Linked DNA regions of Homo sapiens. The protein of the gene in region 1 interacts with the protein of each later gene in a pairwise test. Each region holds a gene or a part of one and is shown on either strand. Other genes may lie near its edges.

The links.
Region 2: the proteins of CCDC125 (region 1) and ZNF883 interact in binary tests that used the Homo sapiens proteins (3 or more experiments, as listed by UniProt).

What each region holds. Positions count from the first base shown.
Region 1 is NC_000005.10:69,284,118-69,287,936, forward strand, and holds part of CCDC125 (coiled-coil domain-containing protein 125), read right to left. Parts: intron 1,351-3,819; coding exon 1,220-1,350; intron 1-1,219. UniProt on the Homo sapiens protein: May be involved in the regulation of cell migration.
Region 2 is NC_000009.12:113,009,242-113,013,759, reverse strand, and holds the start of ZNF883 (zinc finger protein 883), read left to right. Parts: upstream 1-1,567; 5' UTR 1,568-1,610; intron 1,611-2,532; 5' UTR 2,533-2,619; intron 2,620-4,518. UniProt on the Homo sapiens protein: May be involved in transcriptional regulation.

The DNA.
Region 1 (3,819 bases):
TAAAAAAAAAAACAGAAGACAGCATTGAAAATTTTGCAAGTCATCTGGAAATGAAGGGAAAATATAGATCTATATGAAGTGTGTATATATAGGTATATAATATCAACATATAAAAAATATATCAACGTGCATATTTATAAAATAATGTTGAAGTTATTTGTATATAAAATTGCTTTCATATATTTGTATGCAAATATATAACAGTCTAGAGATAAGTATGTTCATATAACCTGAGTCTCAGTGTCTTAGTTTAGTCATTCCATGTGGAATGTGGGTAGCAGGACTGTAAAGGATATAATGTGTGAGGAAATGCCTTGAACACTTTAAAAATGCCTCAATAAACAGGCAGACTTGTCACAAACTGTATATATATAAATGTAGATGGCAAAGCTGGCTGGAGTTAACTACAGGAGCCCCCTGTTTTCCAAGATGGAGCCTTTAAACCTGCACAGAAAGAATATGAATGACGAGAAAAGATGAGCTGAGGGAGATAAAGATCATGAAGGTAGAGTCTGGTACTCCAACTGGGAAAAGGACATAGAAGGCAAGTGCAAGTCTAGAGAGATAAAGAGTTGAATTAACAGGAAGCAAATAGATTAGCTTAACCTAGGGGTGTCCAATCTTTTGGCTTCCCTGGGCCACACTGGAAGAAGAAGAATTGTCTTGGGCCACACATAAAATACACTAACACTGGCTGGGCATGGTGGGTCACGCCTGTAATCCCAGCACTTTGGGATGCCGAGGTGGGCAGATCACTTGAGGTCAGGAGTTTGAGACCAGCCTGGCCAACATGGTGAAATCCTGTCTCTACTAAAAACGCACACACAAAATTAGCCAGGCGTGGTGGTGGGCGCCTGCAGTCCCAGCTACTCTAGAGGCTGAGGCAGGAGAATTGCTTGAACCCGGGAGGTGGAGGTTGCAGTGAGCCGAGATCGCGCCGCTGCACTCCAGCCTGGGTGACAGAGACTCTGTCTCAAAAACCAAACAAACAAAAAAACCAAAAAACAAACAAAACAAAAAAATACACTAACACTAATGATAGCTGATGAACTAAAAAAATATATATATATATCAAAAAGATCTCATAATGTTTTAAGAAAGTTTACGAATTTGTGTTGGGCCACATTCAAAGCTGTTCTGGGCTGCATGCTCCCCACGGACCGTGGGTTGGACAAGCTTGGCTTAACCATAACCTGCAAAAAAAAGCAAAGACACTAACCAAATCTATGAGCATCTTAAGGACCTCTTGAGGACTGTCCTGGTCTTCCATCCTCTTAGAACTGTTTTCTGAAGGGAGCATACCCAACAGTCTCTGCCCGAAGGTCTTCTTACTCCTTGGTGATGGAAATCCTAAAATTGAACATGAGAATCCAGCTGAGACATTAAAATATCCTCACTGATATACTTCCAGCAAAAGAGGTAACTTGATCTCTAGGACAAGTGAGTCCAGGAGCACACAGTGGAATGTAGTGAGCAGAGCACAGCCTTCAGAGCCAGGAGCAATGCAGGTGAGAGGCAGCAAGAGTGCCGCCCTGCCATGCGGCACAGCCACCCCTCTGTGCCAGCTGACACACAGGCCACACAAGAACACAGTCCATGTCACTGGATCATCACAGTCTTCAAGAGCAGCCAGAAATGCAGATCTGTCATGACATCTTCCAATTCTAAATGTCAGCCACTAGTCTTATTGTTTGACTACACTAAGCCAACCTAACAAAACATGTCTGCAGGCCACAGGGGGCCTCTGAGCCATGCAAACTCTGCTTCCGAACAGCAAAGACCTGGACTTGAATCCTCATTCAGCCACTTACTAACTGTATGACCTCGGGTGACTTTTCTCAGCTTGATTTCCTCATCTCTAAAATGAGAATAGCATTACCTTCTTCTCAGGGAACTGTGCCATTAAATAATAAATCACACGGGCTGGAGAAGGGGAAGTGAGGAGTTACTGTTTCATGGGACAGGGTCTCTGTAAAGAAAGATGAAAATGTTCTGGAGCTGGATGGTGATGAAGGTTACATTACAATGTGAATATACTTAATACCACTTAAAAACAGTTCAAATGGTAAACTATATATATATATATATATATATATATATATATATATATATATATAATTTTTTTTTTTTTTTAGATGGAGTCTTGTTCTGTCACCCAGGCTGGAGTGCAGTGGCGCAATCTCGGCTCACTGCAAGCTCCGCCTCCCGGGTTCGCGCCATTCTCCTGCCTCAGCCTCCCGAGTAGCTGGGACTACAGGCGCCCGCCACCACGTCCGGCTAATTTTTTTGTATTTTTAGTAGAGATGGGGTTTCACTGTGTTAGCCAGGATGGTCTCGATCTCCTGACCTCATGATTCGCCCCCTCTTGGCCTCCCAAAATGCTGGGATTACAGGCGTGAGCCACCGCGCCCGGCCAACTTTAGATATATTTTACCACCATCACGACAACAACAAAAAATACCACAATTGTCAAAGGCCCTGCTCAGGTATTAGCATAATATTTAATATTTCACGTGCTGACATCATTGATGTCCTTCTTCATCCATTGAAGGAAAGTAATTTGCAGAAGTTATAAAATCTCAGATTGTACAAGGAAAATTTCAAGAATGTTTTTGGAATATTCTCCAAAAGTGGTTTAGTGGGAAACTGAGAGCAGATGAGGGGAGATCCCCTTCCCACCAATCCTGACAGACCACAGTGACGAGGGCGGCCCTGACCCCTTCCACGAGGAGCTGTGGCAAACAGAAGTCAGAGAAACTGACACTTTGATGAGTAGATGAATCTGTGTCCCTATTTTCAGTCTAAAAAAAGAAATAGCTTGGTGTGATGGCTCAAGCTGGTAGTCTGGAGGATTGCTTAAGCCCAGGAGTTTAAGATAAAAAAAAAAAAAAAAAAACCCAAAAGCAAAAATACAAAGAAAGAAAGAAGTATGCCTATAAACTACTTCCGGAAACTTGTCTAAACTGCCATATCAAAAAGAAAGTTGATATTAAGTGTTACTAAACATAAAATAATCTGTATCACCCTGTACCTCTTAAGATTACTGAAATATACTAATAAAATGAATTAAAGTCTTGTCACTGAGAAACTGAGAAAGAACTACTCAAACTTGTATAGATTTATAAAAGCTGTGCGAGATTAATCAATTTTTTTTTTTTTTTTTGAGATGGAGTCTCGCTTTTGTCGCCCAGGCTGGAGTGCAACAGCGCAATCTTGGCTCACCACAACCTCTGCCTCCCGGGTTCAAACATTTCTCCTGCCTCAGCCTCCCGAGTAGCTGGGATTACAGGCTTGTGCCACCACACCCAGCCAATTTTGTATTTTTAGTAGAGACAGGGTTTCTCCATGTTGGTCAGGCTGGTCTCAAATTCCCGACCTCAAGTGATCCACCCACCTCAGCCTCCCAAAGTCCTGAGATTACAGGCGTGCCACTGCACCCGGCCATCAGTTTTTGGTGGTTTTTTTTTTTTGAGACAGGGTCTTGCTCCATCACCCAGGCTGGACTGCAGTGGTGGGATCATGACTCACTGCAGCCTCAGCCTCCCAGGCTCAAGCGATCCTCCCACTTCAGCCTCCCTAGTAGCTGAGACCACAGGTATCTACCACCACACTTGGCTATTTTTTTTTTTTTAATAGAGACAGGGTCTCCCTATGTTGCCCAGCCTGGTCTCAAACTCCTGAGCTCAAGCAATCCTCCTGCCTCAGCCTCCCAAAGCGCTGGGATTACAGGCATGAGCCACTGTGCCCTGCCTATATCAATTATTTAAAATTCTGCCTTCAGTCTCTCTCAGTGCCTTACTGGAACTCAGAGATTGGGAG
Region 2 (4,518 bases), on another chromosome or scaffold:
TCCACGTTTATTGCAGCAGTATTCACAGTAGCCAAGATATGGAAACAACCTAAATATCTATTGGTGGACAAGTAAAGAAAATGTGGTATATACATATAATGGAATATTATTCAGCCTTATTAACAATGAAATCCTGTCATTTATGACACCATGGATGAAACTGGAGGATATTATGCTAAGTGAAAGAAGTTAGGCACAGAAAGACAAATATTGCATGATCTCACTTATATGTGGAATCAAAAATAGGGAAATACATAGAAACAGAAAGTAAAATGGTGAAGGGGCTGGTGAGGGAGAAATAGGCAGGTTTTGGTCAAAGAGTACAAAGTTTCAGTATTTATTTATACACAATAAATAAGATCTGGATGTCTTCTTACCATAAAGAGCCTATGATTCACAATAGTGTATTATATACTTAAAAATAAGTAAAGAGGGTAGATCTCACATTAAGTGTTCTTACCACAAAAGGTGGGGGAAGCCCAAAGGGGTGGAAACTTTTGGAAGTGATAGATGAATTTATGGGATTGATGGCATGATGGCTTAATGGTTTCACAGGTATATATACTTACCTCCAAACACATCAAGTTGTGTATATTAACTGTGTACAGTTATATCAATCATAGCTCAATAAAGCAATTTTTTAAAGTATGTATAGTTTTATACTTGAGAATATCTAATTATACAGAATTTGTATATATATGCATAGAAATTACATATTTAAATATATAATAGGGAGTATCTTGGAGTGAACTTTTATCTGACTAATTTTGTTCTTTTTCCTTACCTCTATTCTCTGTTATCTACAATCTGTCTATCTATCTATATTCGTTTGTTTAAGAAAAAAGTTAGATATACATATTCCCTCTTCATTATATTCGTTTTTCGGACGTTTTTGTCAAGAACAGATGTGGAGGAGTGAACAGATTACTCTACAAGGATGTTCATCAGTATACTATTTTTGGTAGCACTGAAGGGATCATAACCTAAGTTCCTAACAGGAAGAAAAAAGCTAGAAAAAAATCTACCCCAAAAGTATGACCTCATTCTTGGATGGAATCTCTCTGGTGCTTGCTCGCTGTCTCTCTCTCTGCCCCCTGTCTCTGCCCGCCCCGCCCCCCCGCCACCGTCCCCTCAACACACACTCATAACAAAGAAGCTAGCTATAAATCAGAGATTTACTTTTAGAATGCTAAAAAATATTAATCACTGCGTTAATAAATATTTCTGCAATGAATCCATCTGGGTAGTTTGGTTTTTTATCTGTTGAATAAAGAGTTATTTATAAATCATCTATTAATGTAGTGAATAGGTATTACTTTTGTGTCTGGGGTGTTGTTAACGCAAACTTTGCATCTCTTTGGATTTACAGTTGTTTATAGCAAAAGAAAAAATCTTTTCCTTTTTTCTTCTTTTCATGTAAACAACGATGGAAACGACGCACGTTCGCAACCCGCAAAGCATTAGAAAGACACCGGTGAAAGACGCAGCTCAAGAGGGCGCTTTGCAGAAGATGCTGGGAAATGTAGTTCCTGGCGGCCGCGTGCGCAGGCGTACTTCCTGGCTTGGGAACCACATCGCCCGACCGTGCTCTTTATTTTTCGGTGGAGCAGGTGAGCTTTTTCTTTCCCGACCCTTGCACTCGTGTGGGAGGTGGGGAGAGAGGTCCCCTTCAAACACAACCATTCGGGCGGGTCGGGAGAGGCCTGAGAATGCATTGGCCGGGCCCGGGGGCGGAGGAAAGCCGATTAGGTCAGGCTGGGTATTTGGTTCACGTTGCAGTGGAGGGGTGGTGGTGACCTGGGCCAGCATCCCGCTTCAGGGTGAGGAGGAGGCAAAGCCGTGTCTGCTCATCCCAGCCTTAACAGTCAGGGGCTTGGGTTCTCTTCTGGGTTGGAGAGTCATGAGAACAGAGCTCAGAGCTTTTGGGCCTTGCTTTGACTGTGATGGGGGGCAGTTTATCTGGGGAGGGGCAACCACCCCAGACCTTGGTGGTAGGTAGACCTGGGAATTGCAAGAAAACCGTGATATACGTATTTAGTGCCAACTAGAATTTAGGTTTCCCGACATCCAGTTCTTGCTCTTTCCTCAGAAACTCACCTCCTCTCTAGAGATAGCTTGTTTCGTTTTACTGGTAAATTTCTGAAGTCTCTTCTATAAAGAACTGTGGAATTGATTCCCTACACTCTGCGGGCGACGAAGAGCAATTGTTTGTTCTTTGAGATGGCATTTGTGAATGCACTTCGAAAAATTGTATATGCTTTACAAGTATTGTTAACAAACAAAGAGGGAGCTGGTGCACTCGGTGCCACCCATCATGGGAGGATAAAGTTAGCCCTGTTTCTGGTTTGTCAGATTGGACCAGTGACCAGAGAGAGGAATGTAAGTGGCCTTTCACTTTGTACTCTGCAGGGAAAGAATCTGTTCCTAGATTCATTCTGACATTTTTACAGAGGGTGTGGGTTATATCCAGGTAGTCAGACAGGCTTCTCATAAAGACAGTCCTGATTTCTCAGGGCCCCTTTCCTTTTTCAGCTCTGCTTTCTCAGGTCTCTACTTACTTATATAAGATGGCATCAAGAAGAAGGACCTGACCACTGGCCCCTGACTACATGGTCTTTGGTGAGCAAAACTTTTCAAGGCATTTGTACCTTAAGCTGGGTTTAATTTCTAAAGTTCCATCTTGCAGTGTGGAAAAATCATATGCAATTAAACGTCCCTTGATAATCTCTTTTATTGCTCATTATTTGCTCTCAATTTTTTTTTTTTTTTTTTTTTGAGACAAGGTCTCGTCCAGTTGCCCAGGCTGGAGTGCAGTGCACGATCTTGGCTCACTGCAACCTCTGCCTCCTGGGTTCAAGCGATTCTTCTGCCTCAGCCTCCTGAGTAGCTGGAATTACAGGCGTGCACCACCACGCCCGGCTAATTTTTGTATTTTTAGTAGAGATGGGGTTTCACCATGTTGGGCATCCTGGTCTCAAACTCCTGACCTCGTGATCTGCCCACCTCAGCCTCCCAAAGTGCTGGGATTACAGGTGTGAGTCACCGTGCCCGGCCTAATTTTTCTTTATAACTGACAAATAAAAATTTTATATATTCATCATGTGTAACATGTTGTTTTGAAATATGTATACGTAGTAGAATGGCTAAATCAAGCTAATGAACATGCATCACCTCACGTACTTTTCATTTTTTGTGGTGAGAGCACTTAAACTGCTCTCATAGCAATTTTCAAGAATACATTGTTATGAACAATAGTTCATAACGTGTATGCACATGTAATGTGTATACAACCATGCAATAATATACATGTGTAAATGTACCCCGACTATGTTCTTTAAACATTAAAATAACTCAGCATAGCAAGATGCTCACTTACGAGAGGGCTGTAAGAAGTGAGACTGAGGAAACAGGAGATTCTCCCATCTCACTCTTACCTTTAGATAACATACTTTCTTGAGCCTGTTGGGCAGATTTGTACAAATAAAATATACATGTGTGTCTGTAACGCAGCTCTGCTGTATTTTTTATTTCCTGAAATATCACCTCTGTCCAGAGGGAGGGAAAATTTTCTTTCTTTCACTCACTGAATAAATATTCATTGAGCACCTACTTTTTGCCAGCTAATGTTCTAAGCATTGGGATATAACAGTGAATAACACAAAGTTTCTGCCTATGTGGAACTGACAGTCTTGGATGGGCACACAGACAATAATGTAAACACAGATGTTCCTCAACTGAGCATGAGGTTACATTCCAGTAAATGTGTAAGTTGAAAATATTAATTCAAAAATGTACTAATTCACCTAACCTACTGAACATCATTCATAGTGATGAATAGAGGAAACTATACCAGAGTAATGGGGCTAGGGAAGGCATAGGACAGCTGTTATTTAATATAGGGGAGTAAGAGAAGGCTTCACTGGTAGATGACATTATAGAAAATGAGAATATGGGCCGGGCGTGATGGCTCATGCCTGTAATCCCAGCACTTTGGGAGGCTGAGGCAGGCAGATCACGAGGTCAAGAGATTGAGACCATCCTGTCCAACATGGTGAAACCCTGTCTCTACTAAAAATACAAAAATTAGCTGGGCGTGGCGGCATACGCCTGTAGTCCCAGCTACTCGGGAGGCTGAGGCAGGAGAATCGCTTGAACCTGGGAGGTGGAGATTGCACTGGGCCGAGATCACGCCACTGCATTCCAGCCTGGGCTACAGAACAAGACTCTGTCTCAAAAAAAAAAAAAGGAATATGAGCCTTGTAGATACTTGGGGAGGGGAGGGGGATTAGGGAGATTAAGTTCCTCAGCAGAAGCAACAGCAAATGCAAAGCCTCAAGGTGCAGATGTGCTTAACCTTTGTGGGAGCATCAGGAAGGCCACGTGGCCAGAGAGGGGTGAGTGATAGCAGCACAGTAGGAGTTGAGATGAGAGAGGTAAGGCGTGCAGACCACACAGCACACAGGCTAGTATGGCCACAGCCAGTTTGGCTTTTATGCTGAATGAGAAGAGAAAACGTAG